Homo sapiens: one gene and its partners. The protein of the gene in region 1 interacts with the protein of each later gene in a biochemical or structural test. Each region holds a gene or a part of one and is shown in the gene's direction. Other genes may lie near its edges.

Region 1 (4,163 bases):
CAGGCCTCAGAGTTGGGAGGAGGTCACTGTTCAGTTCAAGCCTGGTCCATGGGGTAGGGTCGGCTTCCCATCTATAAGCCCCTTTAGATTTCCGAAAGAGGCAGCATCTTTATTCTGTGAAATGTTTGGGGGCAAACCCAGGAACATGGTACTTAGCCCAGAAGGGGAAGATCAGGAATCTTTGCTTCAGCCTGATCAGCCTAGTCCTGAGTTCCCATTTCAGTATGATCCTTCCTACAGGTCAGTCCAGGAAATTCGAGAGCATCTTAGGGCCAAGGAGAGTACAGAGCCTGAGAGTTCATCCTGTAACTGCATACAATGTGAGCTGAAAATTGGTTCTGAAGAGTTTGAAGAACTCCTTTTATTAATGGAAAAAATTCGGGATCCTTTTATTCATGAAATATCTAAAATCGCAATGGGTATGAGAAGTGCTTCTCAATTTACCCGAGATTTCATTCGAGATTCAGGTGTTGTCTCACTTATTGAAACCTTGCTTAATTATCCGTCCTCCCGAGTTAGAACAAGTTTTTTGGAAAATATGATTCGCATGGCCCCACCTTATCCGAATCTAAACATAATTCAGACATACATATGTAAAGTGTGTGAGGAAACCCTTGCTTATAGCGTGGATTCCCCGGAACAGCTGTCTGGAATAAGGATGATTAGACATCTCACTACTACTACTGACTATCACACACTGGTTGCCAATTATATGTCTGGGTTTCTCTCCTTATTAGCTACAGGCAATGCCAAAACAAGGTTTCATGTTTTGAAAATGCTACTGAATTTGTCTGAAAATCTTTTCATGACAAAAGAACTACTCAGTGCTGAAGCAGTGTCAGAATTTATAGGCCTCTTTAACAGGGAAGAGACAAATGACAATATTCAAATTGTTCTTGCAATATTTGAGAATATTGGCAACAATATCAAAAAAGAAACAGTGTTCTCTGATGATGATTTCAATATTGAGCCGCTTATTTCTGCATTCCACAAAGTTGAGAAATTTGCTAAGGAACTGCAAGGCAAAACAGACAATCAAAATGACCCTGAAGGGGACCAAGAAAATTAGTAATGGTTAATTGCTGGCCTCAGATTGTCCTTATGTTCCTGAGTTATGATCCTTGAGTAATGCTTTGATTTTAATAGTTGGTTCTGTGTTGCAACATATATCTTTAGTGCTGACACTAACTTTGTCCAACTCTGTCTGTAAGCTGGAGCATTTTTCTGATGCCAGCTGAATATTAGAGCTGAAAACACATTTGTTGATATTTGTCTTGTCCACATTGTGATGTTCAGTATTTGAGCTTATAGTGAACTGAGCAATCATAAATAAGCCACCCTTCTGATTGTCGTTCTACTGTATATATATATATATTTGAGTGTTGTTTGTGTTTCAATAAAGTCCTATGTTAAAGTTGGCAGAAATCACCCTTCTTCTTGAAATTAAAATACAGACCCAATGATAACACATGAACACACATAGAGATAATTAATATATGAATAATATGTTCCTTTCAAAAGTTTTTTTCTCAGCTTTAAACGCAAAAATTACCAGGGGCTGCTATGTAGGGCATACTTCAGAGAAAAAGTAGCTACTTCGGTTGGACTCTGAAGTTTGGGAAAGATATTGGTGGTGTAAAAAAAAAAAAAAGCATGGAGTTAGGAAAAATTTTCCTATGGGAGTGAGGTATCCTGTTTGCCTAGAGTGAGTGAGAGGAATATATTGAGCAACATAGAGGATGACATAAGTTTTAAAGAGCTGAGGATTTGCATTTTACAGCTCAAAGTACAACTGCTGCTTCCATACTACCTAAAGGGCAAAAGAATAAGACAGGAAAGCATAGGGATTTGATTGAGTCAGGAAGACAATTTAATCATGATGGTACCATGGTAAGTGTTAAGGCAACATCATACAGCCATTAAACATGATGATGTATAGGGTTTTAGGAAAAGCCCTGACATTTTTGATATTTCATATAATAGAGAACACTGGTGTCATACATGGGAAGTATGATCCCATTTGAAAAATAAATGTGAATAAATTGACCAAACTCATGTGAAGTGTATATTATTTAATAATAGAAAATTCTACAATGATATAAAATGTATCAAAGGAATGAAGAGGTAAGAGAGACTACAATTTCAGAAGAACTGGCTTGTCAATTAAAAATGAAAAATTAAAAATTATTTAAAGGACCAAACTGTAAAATTACCAAAGTTCCTGAGTTCATCCCACATGTATTTTTACATTTAAAAAGGTTGGAACATATATGTTCAGACAGTAGCAAGAGACAGGGATAAAGTCGGTTTGGGGAGAGAGTCCAGGATAACAGGAAATATGCAAAGTTTTATTTTCTCAGGAAAAAAAAATAGATACAGTGACCCTTTTACATTTGGTTTGCCTCAGGATGCAAAGGCTTTTTCCCACCTGATCTTATTTCTCATTACTTCCTATTTCTGGTTCATTATAAATGATATAAATTAAATTCCAATATGATGTTAGTTTGCTAAGGTTTACGAAAGCAGGGCAAAGTGGCAGTTTTGCCTCCCTTCACAAATCAAAAATTTTAACAGGGATCATCCTGGTGGTGCAAATTGGAGTTTGAATGTTTGTTTTGCTTACCAGCATTTTTCAAGACAGATCTTGCGTGTGTTTTAGTATGTCGCTCTAGTCGTATACAAAATATCACAAATCACTTCATCTCCCCAATCCTCATCGAATGTTCCTCGCCAGCCCAGTGGTCCTCCAGAGCAAAGCCCGGCCTTCCTTCCAGCTGTCTGGGCCAGGAGCTTGAGGGTCTTCTAGCAAGCACCCCGGAGGCTGTCTTCTGACTGTCATGCAGGGCTGTGGCAAACTAGCTGACTGCGCAGTCACGTGGAGGGGGGAGGGGCTGACGGTGGGTCATGTGACCAGGCTCTGGGTTGAGCCGGCCTAGAGGAGTGTTTTCTTACACCCAGAAAGTACAGGAAAGGCAGACGACAACTGTGCTCCGCAGAGCGGGAGGTGGGGGGAACGGCGGAATATTAAGGTGGGTAGGTGTCTCTCCATGCTTCATCAGCCTGAAAACTAATTTCTCAGGCGACCGGAATTACAGCATTTCTTGGTAGAGGAAACTATCCCTCAGCCAACCGCTAGCGGTCTTAGACGGTCTGTCTTTTGTCCAGGAGCTCAAGAAGCAGAGACTCTACCTGCCCTAGGCGTTCGTGAAGAGAAGCAGCTGTTGCTATTGGAGGAGGTGGGTGCAAGGACGGCAGATGCCATCCCTGAGAGGCGGTGACTGAGACTAGATGCGGGTACAGGTAGTGCCTCGGATCCCCGGGCTGCCTCCTGCCTTTTGAACATCCCAGGGGTCCCAACCCAGCGCCCTGTGTTTCTATGTGTGGGTGGGAGAGGTGGGCATATGGATGGAGTTGGCTTCAGGGGAGCCCAGAGAGGGGAAATGGTGAAGTGACAATTCGTGAACACGTGTGGTGCTGGATCAGGAAAGGTAAGGGTGGGGATGGGAACCATGGACTATGCTACTGCTGTCTTCCTCCCACCAAGTAGGCACTCACTCTGCTCTCTGTCTGTCTGTTTACTGGCAGTATTCAGGCAGTGGGGATGGCTGATACCAGCTCAAAACTGGCGGAGGGTGGAGGAGGGCAGAAGAGAACACATACATCTGCCTTTTGCTCCAAGGCTCCAGCTGGCTGGGGATGCAAGAGAGGAATGAACCTCAATCCAGGCAGTTCTAGGAAAAGAAGGAGGAGACATAGACTCGAGGGGAGGAAACCTAGATGCTGTGGGCCCTTCACTTAGGATTTCTCATTAGGATACTCCAAGCTTCTCGACCCCCAAGGGGATTCCTGGATCTCAGCCCCATGCAGCAGGATCTCATTCCCATTGAGGGACACAAAGTGGGTTGCTGCTCCATGTGATGCTCTCTCTCCCTGCTGTCTTGGGCCTTAGAGGAGGGTCTGGGGACCACCTACAGAAACTGCTTCATGGATAGTCTCATAGGTTCCCCTCTGCATACCCTTTGCTCTCTTGTGTTGTGATCTCTGCTCATTCCTTAGGACGTGTTTCTTTGGTCCCATTCCAGGTAGCAGCCCCATGGTAAGTCCTTCTCCTCTTTCACATTGAGTATTCTCCTTTCCCCCTGCCCCATGCATCCACTGGGTAC
Region 2 (5,112 bases), on another chromosome or scaffold:
AATCTAGTACAGTGCTTGACACATAATAGATGATAAATAAAAGTAATAACTGCTAACCATTATTGAACACCCGCTACATGCTATGCAGCATGCTACCTGCAAAATAGGTGCTTCTAGCATCCCCACTTTTCAGAAGAACAACTTAAGGCTCAGGAACAAAAGTAACTGACCTATGTTCACACAGTCCCTAAGTGGTAGCTGTGATATGAATCACCCCGATGCTTGTATTGAATGTTATGCAGTTATACTTGTCAAGTGACTTCAGTATATAGGCAGTGAAGAGTCTCAGAATATTTTTGAGCTGGAGACTAGCCATAAGCTCTCTAAGAAGACAATGAGAATGAATTGTTACTCTAAGTAAGTAAAGTTTATTAGACTTACTGCACTACGAGTGGTATCCACTCCTAGACAGTCTTAGTAGTTTCTCAGATGAAGGAAATAAGGCAAGGATATTGATAGGGTTTTGGGGCTTGGGCTGGGTGATTTGAAGGTAGGGAACTGGTGAGGATTAGGCAGAGTTTATGACATAATAGCTTTAGACTGGTAAGTACAGCTAGATGAGGGCTGTGAAGTGAGTGTTAATGAGCAAACTAGTCTTGATAAGTAGGCTATTTTTGTTGGCATATAGTCTTCTGAAAGTGACTATTTCCTAGAACAAATAGCTAGGTTATTTTGCCTGGCTGCAGCATTTTTTAGCACAGGAAAAGGAAAGCGTGTTGGTTTTAGTTCTCAGGAGTAACATGGGAAGGTCTCTCTGGCAATAGTGAGGAGGGCAGACAAGGGAAAGATGGGTGGCAGGGGATCCAGTTAAGCAGCCAGTGTATAAAGTAGGAAAGAACAGATAAAGTCATGAGCAAGGAAACACTGCTATATTTGCATGCATCCATAGGGTCAAAAAACTTGAGAATCATTTTATTGATTATTTTAGTTAATGATTCATAGATAATTCAGATAGATCATAAAATGGTAATCTTTAAAATGTAGCACAAAAAGGTTTTCCAGTTTAAAATAATAACATGCGTTTGCTGAGGATTCACTCTCAGACACTTTGCTGAGCACTTTATGTGAATTTGATCAATTAATCCTCAAAAGTTTATGATAGGTTAGTTTTCTTCATTTCCATTCTGAAAATAACAAAACAAGGGCGTGGAGAAGTCAAATGATTTCCCCCACAGTCATATAGAGAGTGATAGAGCTGGATTTGAGCCCAGGACATCTGTGTTCAAAAGTGCTTTTAACTTCTATGCTACTGTGCCTTTTATAAAAATAAATCAGCTAACATAAAGTCTAAAGATATTTGCCTTTGTATCTTTAGCTAGTCTGGAGGCTTGGGTGTTGTTTTCCTGTAAGCTTAAGACAGAGGTCAGCAAACTTTAACTGTGAAGGGCCAAGTGGTAAATATTTTAAGCTTTGCTAGCCATATGGTCTCTATTGAAACTACTCATCTCACTGATGAGTAATTTGTCACTGACATAAGTAAACAGATAGGCCCGTGTACCAATAAAACTTTATTTACAAAAAGGGGCTGCCAGTTGTATTTGGCCAACAGGCCATAGTCTGCTGTATCTTCTTTGCATTTCTCTCAGTTTGAATTTATAATTACAGAATATCTACTTCATTAAGGACGATTAGCCTAAAAATATCCATCAACTTTAGGAAATTTCTAATATGGCTGCCATGCATTGAGGAAGATACAGAAAACAGATGATATCTTTCATGTCCTTATGCACATAATTTTGTTGGATATACCTTACACAAACAGACATATGTTGCTATGGCCTGAATGTTTGTGTCTCCTGCAAAATTCATATTTTGAAACCAAATTCCCAATGCAATACTATGAAAATGTGGATTCTTTAGGAGGTAATTAGGTCATGGGGGCAGGGCCCTCATGAATGGGATTATTGCCCTTATAAAAGAGGCCTGAGGGAGCTTGTTCATACCTTCTACCATGTAAGGAAGCAGCTAGAAGTTACCATCTATGAAGCAGACAGCGAGCCCTCACCAGACATGGAATCTATTGGTGGCTTAATCTTGGATTTCTCAGCCTCTCAAACTATAAGAAATAAATTTCTGTTGTTTATAAGCTACCAATTTATGGGATTTTGTTATAGCAGCCTGGCTAGGCTAAGACATATGCACATGGCAACCTTTCTGTAATAAGGAAAGGTGGAGACAGGAAAAACTATGGGATTCAAAGGAAAGGAAAATAACTCAGAGCTTACACTAACCCTAATCAGAGAAGACTTCCTGAAGGATATGAACTCAAGCATGTCTATGAAGTTGGTCAAAGCATTTATAGTGAAAGGAGAGCAGAAATGGTATTCTAGGTGAAGAGGACTTTTTTTGTAAAGGCACCAATGTGGGAGCTTATACAAAGGACCATCTGGCTGAAGCTAAGCATTTGGGTGCAGGAACTGTTAGAGATCAAAGCAGAAAAGTAGATTGAGATGAAATTATAAAGGCTCTTCTATGCTAGCTCCAAGAATTTGGACTTTTAATATTGACAAATGGTTCTTAATCAGGAGTAATTTTGCCTCCCATCCCAACTCTCTGTAGCCATTTGGCCATTTCTGGAGGGATTTTTGGTTGTCACAAGTCTGGGTGGCACACTACTGGCATCTACTGGGTAGAGGCCAGGGCTGCTCTTAAGGATTTTACAGTATACAGGCCAGCAACCCCCCGCCCACCCCCCAACAAAGAAGTACCTAATCCTTAATGCTAAATGTGGGACACTCTGTAGTAGTAAGCCATCAGTGAATCTGCAAGTAGGATCAGTGAATCTGCAAGTAGGGGAATGGAGTCATCAAAATGGTCAAGACTGATGCAGTAGCACTGTGTGGATAACTCCAAATGTAGAAAATGGATGTAAGGAGTCTCTTCATTGGCTTGTTTTTCCCAGAAACATTTGAGGGTCTGCTATGTACAAAGCATGGAACCAGGCATGGTAGGGTAGAAAGATGAGTAAGGGACAGTTGAAGTCTCTGGAAGCTTTTAATCTAGTGTGCTGGGGTGGCTGCAGAGGTGGTGGTGGCTAGTAGGAGACTTGTAATCAGAACCCTTTGCTCCCCCTGCCTCTCTCTAGCTCTCACTCATCTTGTGGCCACCGTGCAGATTCTGGACTCCTCCAGACTCAGGGCTTTCTCCAGCTCTTTTCCTCCCATCTAGCTTCTGGGCTTCTAGTCTCTCTTACCTTTTCGCCTTGCTCTGCCTTCTTGGCTCTACGTATTCTCCTACATAATAGTTTCTTTCTTTCCTGTACAAACCTGTAAGACTGTTCCTACTCCCAAATATTTACCCATTTCTCCCCATTTTCTTGATCAGCATAACCAGAACCTCAGGAGTTCATCAGGCACTCGAAAATTTTCCCTGGGGTAATGAAGTGAATAGATGGAGGAAAAGCTGTGAATACTTTTGCACTGGTAATTTTAATTTACTGCTATCAATTTTAATCCTTTTCACAAGTATTCACAGATTGGTAATATAAAACCAAATATGATAATGAAATATAATCAAGGATTCTTTTTTTCTTTTAAAATTTGATTTACTTATGGATTTGCTTTGAATTGCCATAAATTGCAGGAGGGCCTGCACAAGGAGGGTGCTGTTGAGACCAGAAAAGAGGCCACCGGTATCTGTGTGGGTGCTACAATCTCCAGACCATCACAATTGGTTAGCAGGTGGGTAGCAAGGAAAGGGAGACTTTGGAGATAGTGCTGTGGTCTGGAGGAATTCAGAACATGAACTATGTGAGCAGAGCCGTGCTGAGCTGGAGAAAGCACTGTCTCTCCTGTGCTGGGAAGAGACAGTGGCCCTGGGCTAGGAATGTGTCTGTGGAGCACAGATGGTTGCCAGTCCCCTCTTCAGATACGTGGAGCCTAGAGTGCTGAGTCTGGGCTGAAGTGCAGTACTTGTCCTCAGGTGTTATTGTGTGAGGCTGAGGGGAAAAGCTAGAAACCATGTCTCCAGCAAAATCCATCTATTGATCACCCATCTGAAGGGCTGGGCTGAGAGGGGGACCTCAAAGAAGGAAGAGCAGGACTGCAGGCAAGACAGCCAAATGGCAGGGTAGGGGGTGCTTTAGATGGGGTGGGTAGGTGGAGATTAGGGGCACAGTCCCAGTCTCTGGGTCCTCATAGACCTAGCTCTTAGGCACATGATGTAGTGTGGTAAGTTGAGGCCTGTGGAGGTGCAGAGTCAGGGGAGTGGCTTTACACCAGGAGAAAGGGACTTTTTCTCAGCCCTTGGCTGACACTTCTCTATCACTAATGCCACTTCTGAGCATCTAGGAACGAGGGAGAGAAGTGAAGTTTCTTGGTCCCTACACACATACCTTACAATAACACACCTTCCTAGGTTTGAGGGAGAGAGCACGTCTCATTGGTAATCATTATTTAGTCATTATTCTTTTCAAGTGGGGCAGGTGCAATAGTATTTTGCAAGGATTTTTGAGAGCAAAGTCATTTTTTGCTATAGCTGTATTAAAAAGGTGAATTTCTAAATGGGTTATTTGGGGCTGATTTGCAAATATATTAAAGCCTTGGCAACTTGTGGAAGTTATGAAATTTATGAAAAGAGTCACAACACTTTTTCTTTCCCTTGAAGGATACTCATAATCCCTTAAAAGCCACAAATGATTCAAATTACTGACTGCTGTAAAAATTAAGTCCACCTACCACAAAATGAAAACTCACATTTACAGTTCTACTAAATTATTTTCTATTTTTCTCTCTCTTTTTTTTAGACAAAATGCTGACTACTGTAGAAAAAAAGGTCATGATTCATGATTGAAAGCAGAACAATGGAGATGAAATAAACAAGGCAAAATAGAGGTGGAAACAGAAGGAAGTCATTTGCTGAGTCTGCAGAATGGAATGCAGCTTCTGTCCTTTCTTGGGATGTCTAAAACATGACAAACAGGGTGATCTGTTGTACACACTATCTTATGAGGGAGATGGTGACTTCTCCTTTTTTCTGTGGATCAGTGCTATTGTGTGTTCTCAGTTTAAGATAGCAGATCATCTCAGCAGTAAGCACACCAACAGAACTGAGTTCCAGAAAGGAAGCAGTTTCTGGTGCTTTGCATATGTCCAAATCCATGCAAGTGGGAGA
Region 3 (5,112 bases), on another chromosome or scaffold:
AGAAAGCAACTTCCCCTTGCTCTGTCTGAAAGATACTCATGGTTTGTCATCGGGGGACCCGAAGGAAGAAGAAAGCAGAGAAGATTGGGAGAGGACAAAAGAGCGAGAGGATGTGGAGAGAAAGGGTGACATGCTACCAAGAAGACTGATAGTCAGCCGGGTGCGATGGCTCACGCCTGTAATCCTGGCACTTTGGGAGGCCAAGGTGGGTGGATCACGAGGTCAGGAGATCGAGACCATCCTGGCTACGACACGGTGAAACCCCGTCTCTACTAAAAATACAAAAAATTAGCCGGGCTTGGTGGCGGACGCCTGTAGTCCCAGCTACTCGGAAGGCTGAGGCAGGAGAATGGCGTGAACCCGGGAGGCGGAGCTTGCAGTGAGCCGAGATCGCGCCACTGCACTCCAGCCTGGGCGACAAAGGGAGACTCCGTCTCAAAAAAAAAAAAAAAAAAAAAAAAAAGGAAGAAGACTGATATTCATCCCACTCTGGTGACACACAGGAATGGAAACGGCCACTTGCCCTCTGGATGGAAATGCCTCTTTGCTTAATTTCATACAGGCCTCTCCCCGTCTTCTCTTTTTGAGGTAAACTAGCAAGCAATAGTTCCTTTCCCGTCGCAGGATTCAGAGGTCTGCTATCACCACTCTTTTCCTTTGCTGATAGTAGCTTATTAGAAATGTCATTAACTACATAACGTCACCTTGAAATAAATGTAAATTAAATGTTTCACAACATTTTATAGCAAAGTGAGAAGTCCTCCATTCTCCCCTTCACTAAGCTAGTGGAGAATATAATACAAAATAGCAACCTAATATATAGTCTTTCTCCATGTTAATGCCAATGAGAGGATAATCACTAGTTTTGATTATGCTTTTTCTTATTTTAGAACCTCCCCCCCCAACAGACAGACAGACACACACACACACACTCACAAGTAAAAACGCACCTGGGATATCAGAATGGAATAGATGGATAATAATGGATCAATTAACTCAGGTAGATACTCATTTGACCATATTCTTTGCCTAAATAATTACTTGAAATGTAGGAAAGTATCTTTATCTCATTGGATTGATCCAATTAAATATGAGTATTAAAGTATGACACTCTAGGGAGGATTTTTTTCTCGACTAAAAAGGTTAATTTCTATGTGAGGGTAAGTGGACATAAAAGTCATGGCAAATGCAAGAAATATATCTTTCCAAGCACATTGCTGAACATATAAAAGGGGCTTGTTGAATTCTTACTGAATTAGGTATCTTTCTTCACACTACTTGGTAAAAAAAATGAAAAGGCAGAAAAATTAGCCCCAAAAGAGATGAAACTCTTCCGTCCATCACCATTGACTCTATTGTGAACTTATGAAAAAGGTAGTTGAGCAATATGAAGGCCATGATGTGGAATTAAACACACACACACACACACACACACACACACACACATGCTGGATTCTAAAATGTGTCCTTCCTCCTCTCACTCTCTTGATCAGTTTTATTTCTGAACTGAGACACGATCACCACAATTCAAATAATTAACCACAAAACTAAACAGAAGTTTACAAAACCCATCAGGTGTACAGAGGTAATTTATTTAGTCTGGCTTCACTTAACACAAATAGGTCAAAAGCAATCACATTTTGTAAGTAGTAATAGTTGGAGAAATGTGTGAAGAATAGGTCAAAAGATAAATAAGAATTATTTTATAACCATAAGAAAGGAAGAACATCTATAAACAAAAGTCATATATGCAACATAAAAGAATAGGTGAGCTGCCAGCAAATGGGCCTCACAATGCCTTTTCCCCAACACTTCTGGAAGTTCCATAAAAATCACTCTAATGGGTCAAACATCGATGGTTCTCAGAAGAACACAATTTTTTTCAAAAACGAATAGCATTGTAAATTCATTTGAATTCATAAAACAAAAGAGCTATTTAATCATCTAGACCAAAGTTAAAGAAATACCTACTACAAAAATTTTAATGGGATAATTAGAAAGAAATAGCTTGGGCCACTGCTTCGAGCAGAAGATGGAGTTCAGTGGCTACCATAGGAAGGGTCAATATCAGGATGGCCTGTGAGTCCAGATGAGTCTCTCTTTGCCCATTTTGCCACAGAACACATTCACAGCACAGTACAAAGCAGTAGGCATGGAGTAAGGAAAAAGGCTTGTGTTTTAATAGCCAGGAGTTCTACTCGGACCCACTCAGGTAAACTGAATGGCAAAGATAATTCTTCCTGCAGGTCATTTCTTTTGCTAGTTTGCTAACTCTGAGTCCTATGCTCCTGTGCAAGGCCCATGATGTGACTCTGAGCATTCATTGAACTTTGCTGGGACAACATTCATGCCACCACATCAGAACAGAATGAAAGCTTGCCCTTTTTTTTTTTTTTTTTGAGACAGTGTCTCTCTCTGTTGCTCAGGCTGGAATGCAGTGGTACGATTCTCCTGCCTCAGCCTCCCAAGTAGCTGGGATTGCAGGTGCCTGCCACCACCCCCAGCTAATTTTTCTAATTTTAGTAGAGACAGGGTTGACCAGGCTGGTCTCCTTCCCCTGCCCTCAAGTGATCCATTCACCTCAGCCTCCCAAAGTGCTGGGATTATAGGCTTGAGCCACCAGGCCCAGCCCACATTACTCCTTTTCTGATTAGACCATCTCTTCAGATTAAAGCCTTTGGGTATATGCTGGAGGCAATTGGAATTCTTAATCCTTTAGCTTTGTATAATTTTCTTTCACATATTTAGAAGATCGTTGAGCCCCCTTTTATATGTTGCTGTGATCCAAAGCATGAGTAACTGGGGTAAGAATGCTGGCTATCTTTAGAGGAAGACTTTTTAAATAAATTGAGAAAAATTAAACAGCATCATTCCTATAAAATGCCCGTTGAAAGAATTTTTATAGATAAATATTCACTTTTTTTTGGTAAATTGATGATAAAATTATGTATATTTACCATATACAACATGATGTTTTGAAATGTATACACATTGTGGAATGGCTAGCATGCTAATTAACTATGCATAACCACGTTTCCTTTCACCATGTTGAACCCTGACATAATTTTTTTTTCCACAAACACCTCACTCTGGAGAAGGAAATGATTTTTTTTAATTAAAATAAACATACATTGGAAATACTTAGTGCTAAAATAAGCCTGAAGGAAAGGTTGGAAGTATGATGAGTCAGAAAACTGACTGTAAAGAAACCAATTACTTAACATAAAACACCATTAAAGATAAGCCACGAAATGTAAGGTCTGCTGGGTAGGAAAGTGGCAAATGCAATGAAGCATGTCTTTAGATCATGCAGGTCTATAACCAACGGTGAATCTAGCAAAAGTTATTTTCTCTTTTGGGGAGAAACTTCTTCTTATTAAAAAAATAAAAAATGTTTCAACTTCTTGAGCACCAAGGTCAATTATTCTAAATCTTAAAACCACAGTTTTAATTTTGCTTTTTTGTTGGTTTTTGTACTTTGGAGTATTTGTCTACATTATCCTTTTTATATTTGCCATATTTAAAGTCCAAACTAAAAGCAAATTATTTTCTCTCCTCAAGTTAAATGGCTCTATCTTTTTCTTTAAAATCCATTAAGAAAGTGAAACTCCCAAAGTAAGTCCAAAAAAAAGCCCCCAAGTCTGAAAATGTGGAGCTTTTCTGGCAGTAATGCAGCTTCTGCAAGTATTGCAGACCAGATCAGGTATCAGAATTTTAAAGCTTCAGTAACAAAGCTGTCCTATTGACCCTGAGGAGATTTATGAAATCACTTTCCTGATGTTATTGAAACCAAAACACTTTCCTGGACACTGAATTCAGTCCTAAACAAAGGGCCTCCAACCAACAGCTGTCTTGGGCTGAATGAGTTAGACTCAACCTCGTGTGACGGAAAAACAGTAAACACAAGCTAACATTTAAAAGGAATTGATGGCACCGTGTAAATCAGAAGCCCAAGGAGGGCCTGGCTTCAGGTGTGGGGTTCTCTCTCACGCTCTCAAATCCACATCCTCCGGATTAGGTCCATTTTCAGACAAGCTCCTCCAGCAACTACATACCATGCGTCTTCTCAGGTGTGGGTCCTGCAGGAAAACTAATACACTCTTTGTCCATAAGTCTCAAAATAAACTCTCACTGGCTCTGGTTGGAACATGAGAGCATCCTTGCCATTCACCATGGCCCCGGTCACTAAACGTCTTCACGCCCTGGACTGGTAATACAGCCTATCCCAAAGCACCTGGACTGAGAACGGGAAATGAGTGGTTCCCAGAGTGAAACTGAGGTACTATTACTAAATTAAGGTAAATATATGTGGAATGTTAAAAAAAAAATGATGTCCAATGTTTACAAGGTATACTTCTGCCATCAGATATAATGTATTATTGCAAGTGTACCTGCTTATATTCTACTATCATATTTCTAATTTCTGCAGGCCTTGAAAACATATAACACTCCTAGATACTTACCCAGGAGGAAGAAAAGCATATGTTTATATAAAGACTTGCACATGAATGTTCGTAACAGTTCATTTGTAACATCCAAAAGTTGTATGCAACTCAGTTCCCATTAATAGGTGAATGGATTAAAAAAAAAAACAGATGAATGCATAAGTAATACTACTTGTCAATAACAAGGAATTAATTCTTGTTATATGCAACCACATAGATGAATCTCAAAATAATGACACTGAGTGAAAGAAGCAGCACAAAAAAAGAGTACATACTGAATGATTCTATTTGCATCTTCTAGGAAATGCAAACTAATCTATAAGAACAGAAAGCAAACCAAGATCAGCAATTGCCTGAGGAATAGTGAGGGTTGGATATGAGGACAGGGAGGGGCAAACAGGAAAGATTAAAGAGCTACACAAAGACACTTTTGGGAGCAATTGATGTCATTATCTTCATCAGAGGTTGACATTTTTTTCTGTAAAGTGCAAGATAGTAAATAACTTAGGCTTTGCATGTCATCTGATCTCTGTTGCAATTATTGAACTTTGCCATTGTAGCATCAAAACACTTATGGGTTTTTAAATAGGTGTATTTATTTATAAAACAGGCAACGGTCCAATTGGGTCTACACACCATAGTTTGCCAATCTCTGATCTTAATTATG
Region 4 (5,112 bases), on another chromosome or scaffold:
AAAGACCTCTTTTTCATGCTGCATACTTTTGCAAACTAACTCTAAACTCATAACTGCCTGCTTGGATACTTGTAAATATCTGTGTAAGTTTCAGCTACAAGGATAATCTTGGTATTTAAGAGATGCTGAATCCGTGGAAATTATCAGCTTCCTTTTTTTTTTTTTTTTTTTGAGACGGAGTCTCGCTCTGTTCCCCAAACTGGAGTGCAGTGGCATGATCTCGGCTCACTGCAAGCTCCGCCTCCCAGGTTCATGCCATTCTCCTGCCTCAGCCTCCTGAGTAGCTGGGACTACAGGCGCCGGCTAATTCTTAGTATTTTTAGTAGAGACAGGGTTTCACCGTGTTAGCCAGGATGGTCTCGATCTCCTGATCTCATGATCTGCCCGCCTCGGCCTCCCAAAGTGCTGGGATTACAGGCATGAGCCACCACGACCGGCCTATCAGCTTCCTTTGACTGGAGACATTGCTTCTCCAAAAATGTGCTGAACCTGTATATTTCCCAGTTTCTCAATGGGGCATTTGATGGTTCCTAGATTATAACCCTGGCATTTAAAGCTACGGTAATAGTACCACCCAAATAAAGCCAGGCTCTGCTTGGTACTGTGGCTTTGCCACATTCTAGCTATATGATTTTGGACACATTGCATAACCTCAGTGCCCCATCCATAAAGTGAAGATAGTAGTGCCCTTCCCATAGGGCTGTTGTGAGGATTAAATAAGTTAATACAAATCACATACTTATGATACGGTACTTAGTAAACACTCAATAAACAGCTGAAACTTGTTATTCTATCTTTTGTTCTTGCGTGGCTTTTTTCAATACAACTTTCAGCTGCATGGTCCACCTTATTCCTTAGCACTTAAAGTTTTTGTCTTTGTCCGTTTTAAATCACTTTAGATATAAAGTACCCTTCATGCAAGCACTCATTAACCCCAAAACAAAATAAAACAAAACTCAGGATGTGTTGCCTCCATAATCTGAAAAGTCTAATATTCCAAATTATCAGATTGCTAAATAATTCTGATTGCCATTTGTCACCTCGAACCTTACGGTTGCTGTGCTGTGTGAAGATAAACTACCCCCTTTAGTTGCTTTTTGAGGAATCATTTGACTTTGTCTTTCTCTGAGTAAAATCTTTAAAAATATATGAACAATACTAATTATTCTCAGAGGAGATTATTACTCTACTAGATACAGGAAAAAAAAAGTATATTTGCCACAGAACCATTCAGCCTTATATTATACATATAGTTTTATAACATTAATCAGTTTTGCTGTCATTTTTCTCATCTCTCAGATTTGTACAAATGTAAAGTAGATAAAATGATTCCCCATGATCAAGTAGTTACATGATTTAGTTCACATTATATATTCCCCAGGTTCTCTCTCATGTGTTTAGCTGTCATATGTGAGTTTGGCAGCAGAATGAACTAAGGATGTATCATAAATTGATGCAAATATTTTTATGTAAGCTTGTTGTATGTACTGAGCAATAGAAACTCAGAAATACAGAATAGAGATTATTGCAATAATCTCTTTTTTAGTTTTGTTCAGCTATAGAGAAAAGCAAGAAGTTTGGAGACAACAGGAAGGAGGAACTTAACTACTAAATTGAATTCGTTTCTATAAAAAGCAGAGCTAGACAAGCAAATTCACTGTCTGTGGTACTGTTTTCAGTTGTGGTTATTGTAGTTTTCATATTTAGAGCTTTCTGATGTTAGCATCTTTGCCTCTTGTTTTCAATATATAATTTATCGTATTTATAAAACAAGTCTGGCAAGTTTGTTTACATTTTAGAAGTCTTTCAAAAGAAAGAGAAAATCTTATTCTTAAAAAGTTGTCATGGCATTAACCAGAGATGTATCTGGCATAACCCATCTCAAGTCATGTCGGACAAGGAAAAGTTCACTGTACGAGGCCATTATCATAAAATCCAGAACTGTGCTATGGTTTACATATATATTTTTCATGTGCACACTTAAATTAAAAACTTCTGCCTTATCAGGGATGGTAGCATATAAAAAGTTTGGTCAACCTTTCTCCCTATTATGACATGTATACCACATTACCTGTGAAACCAAATCAACTTTTATTCATTGGATATGAAAGCTAAAGAAACCTTTTCTTAAAACTAGCAAACAACCTTGCCAGGGGTAATTTAAGCAAGTAACTCAGTTCTTCCATTTGCAAATTCTTCTTCCAAGTTGATATATTCTGTGGCCACAGCATACACAGCCCAGCCCTTTAGATCAGAATTACAATTTAACTTTCTTTAAATCTGATAAGCTCTAAGAACGATGTTCGTACACTTTGCATGGATCATTTCTGACTATCATATAAAAACAAGGCTCCTTTTTCTCTTCCAGGTCCAAACCACCGTGAAGCGCCAATGGGCCCAATTCAAAATTCAGTGGAACCAGCGTTGGGGGAGGCGCCCCTCCAACCGCTCTGCTCGCGCTGCAGCCGCTGCTGCGGAGGCTGGCGACATCCCAATTTACATCTGCCATCAGGAGCTGAGGAATGAACCAGCCAACAACCAAGGCGAGGAGAGTGCTGAGATCATCCCTTTGAATATCATAGAGCAAGAGTCATCTGCTTGAATGTGAAGCAAACACAGCATCGTGATCACTGAGCCATCATTTCCTGGGAGAAAGACCATGCATTTAAAGTATTCTCCATCCTCCCAGGAACCGAACATATCATTTGTGAAGAATTATTCAGTGAATTTGTCCATTGTAAATCTGAAGAAAGTTATTCTTGGTACTGTTGCTTTGGGAGACAGTCTAGGAATGGAGTCTCCCACTGCAACTTGTGAACTCCATCATTCATCCAGGACTGAGATGCAAATGTCACAGTAATGCAAGCAAAGTATCAAAGAAAAACAATGAAATTGACCTAGTTCAGATACAGGGTGCTCCTTGTCAATACTGAGCCATTTATACCTTTGAAATATTAAAATCACTGTCAATATTTTTATTTTTAACTCTGGATTTTGAATTAGATTATTTCTGTATTTGGCTATGGATCTGATTTTTAATTTTTTTAAATTTCAGTCAATTCTGATGTTACTGAGATGTTTTACCATCCTTACAATGTAAACCACATGAACTACGTGACCTCTGCAAGACAAAGCGGCTTTCTAATAGAGAGATTAGTAAATATGTGAAGAAAAAGACCTGCATTTGGCAGGAAGATGTATGCTTTGAATGCAAAAGAAATTTAGAGTCAATTTGCTGAAAACATTACATGCTCAGCTTGGTTTTGGACAAGCCTGTCCATTGGGCAGGACCTAGCTGTTGTAAAGAATTGGTCTTAATGTTGAATGTATTTTGGTTGCTGATGTTTATAAACTGAGAGGTCACAAAGAATCTATCACTAAAAATTTTTACAAAACTGCCAAAAATATAATTCTTAGTGGAAGACAATACTCCCTTTAAAGAGAGTTTGCCACTCCCCTAAACTCCAGGATTTATAAAGCAAATTACTCCAAGGTTTATAAAGCAGATTACCTCTTGCCCTTGGGTGCTATCTAGCAGTAAAAGATAAATTTGTTGAATATTGGTAATTAAAAGACTCCACATAAGTCCATTAACTGCTTTCCACCCAGCTTCAAAGCTTAAAAAGAGCTCAGGCTTTTCCAGGAAGATCCAGGAGGGCTAATTAGAAATCAACTTGTGGTTGACCGCTTGTTTCTTGTTATTACCAAAACAGGAGGGGAAAAAATTAACTGCTCCAAATTTAACCATAAATCAATTCATGTTTAACGTTTCTCATTAAAATCCAGTATTATATTATCATATCTCTCTTTACTTCCCAGTATAAGATTTTTGAAAATCCTGAATAAACCAGTATCGTTACTGGCACCTGAAATTAATTTGTGAATTTGCAACAGTAATCAGAGTTACCATTATTTAATTTGTATGCTAAATGAGGAGGTACATTGAAACCCTCCAAATCTCCAGTCTCATCTATGTCATATTTTGCCACTGCCTTTCAGAAGTGATTTAGTTGTGGAAAGATAATAAATTGATTTGTTATGGTTACATATTTAGCGCACCCAGAGAAAATTAATTATATTTCTACAGAGAAAATGAATTTGGGATACTAAAGTAGTTTAAGTCTCCTTTACTGAATGTAAGGGGGGGATCGAAAAGAAGGTATTTTTCCAATCACAGTGTTATGTAGTATTGTTCTATTTTTGTTTACAAACATGGAAAACAGAGTATTTCTGGCAGCTGTGGTACAAATGTGATAATATATTGCTAAAATATTTTAGATGTTATTATGCTAATATAGTAGGGGTTGAAGAAAACAAAATAGCTTATTATAGAATTGCACATAGTTCTGCCCAAATTATGTGAAATGCTTATGCTTGTGTATATGTATAAATTAATACAGAGTACGTTAAAAGCAAAAAGATGTATATTTGCATATTTTTCTAAAGAAATATATTATTCATCTTTTCATTCATTCATCTCGTCTCCTGCTCATTCCATGCTGTTTTTGATTTCAGCCATGGGCTGCTACCATCCCATCTCATTTGTACTGTAGGAGTGGGAAAGATAATCTAAAAGCATAGGTTAGAAACCATACACAAAAATATCAAGGTTATTATCTTTATTAGTACAAACATCTTTAGTCTCAATTTGATTGTAAATTCAGTGACACTGTTCTCATGCCCTTGATAACACAAAACCACACACCAGTGTCAATCAATATTGCATAGGTTTAGGAAGCACAGCAAAGAAATCAAGTGTAAGAAAGTATTATATCCTTTTATTGTTCTTGTTTTTTTATTCATTATTCTGGGACCAGACTTGATCTGTCCAATATCACATCAGATCCTTAGAATTGTTACAATCAATCATTGGCTTTTAATATAGTTTGGAAGAGAGACTAAGGCTAGACGAAAGGCAACCAATTAACTATCATTAGAATGCATAAAGCCCACCATTGGAAGGATTTTCAGATCTGGAAAGCATGAAATGGAAAAAATGAGGATTAAATGAGAACTCTGATGGACTAAAAAGGGGAAGAGGCGCAATTTGTAGATTCTTCTCATTACGTGAGAACATCCAAAATTGTGGCCTCATGAGATCTGGGAAACTTC

What was found.
Region 2: the proteins of GPRASP1 (region 1) and HTR7 form a complex in vitro, tested with the Homo sapiens proteins (one study listed by BioGRID and IntAct).
Region 3: the proteins of GPRASP1 (region 1) and OPRM1 form a complex in vitro, tested with the Homo sapiens proteins (one study listed by BioGRID and IntAct).
Region 4: the proteins of GPRASP1 (region 1) and CALCR form a complex in vitro, tested with the Homo sapiens proteins (one study listed by BioGRID and IntAct).

What each region holds. Positions count from the first base shown.
Region 1 is NC_000023.11:102,657,033-102,661,195, forward strand, and holds the end of GPRASP1 (G-protein coupled receptor-associated sorting protein 1), read left to right. Parts: coding exon 1-1,069; 3' UTR 1,070-2,051; downstream 2,052-4,163. UniProt on the Homo sapiens protein: Modulates lysosomal sorting and functional down-regulation of a variety of G-protein coupled receptors. Targets receptors for degradation in lysosomes via its interaction with BECN2.
Region 2 is NC_000010.11:90,742,161-90,747,272, reverse strand, and holds part of HTR7 (5-hydroxytryptamine receptor 7), read left to right. Parts: intron 1-3,582; coding exon 3,583-3,680; intron 3,681-4,744; coding exon 4,745-4,791; 3' UTR 4,792-5,112. UniProt on the Homo sapiens protein: G-protein coupled receptor for 5-hydroxytryptamine (serotonin), a biogenic hormone that functions as a neurotransmitter, a hormone and a mitogen.
Region 3 is NC_000006.12:154,083,507-154,088,618, forward strand, and holds part of OPRM1 (mu-type opioid receptor), read left to right. Parts: exon of another isoform or gene 1-205; intron 206-3,000; exon of another isoform or gene 3,001-4,298; intron 4,299-5,112. UniProt on the Homo sapiens protein: Receptor for endogenous opioids such as beta-endorphin and endomorphin. Receptor for natural and synthetic opioids including morphine, heroin, DAMGO, fentanyl, etorphine, buprenorphin and methadone.
Region 4 is NC_000007.14:93,423,846-93,428,957, reverse strand, and holds the end of CALCR (calcitonin receptor isoform 2 precursor), read left to right. Parts: intron 1-2,368; coding exon 2,369-2,602; 3' UTR 2,603-4,472; downstream 4,473-5,112. UniProt on the Homo sapiens protein: G protein-coupled receptor activated by ligand peptides amylin (IAPP), calcitonin (CT/CALCA) and calcitonin gene-related peptide type 1 (CGRP1/CALCA).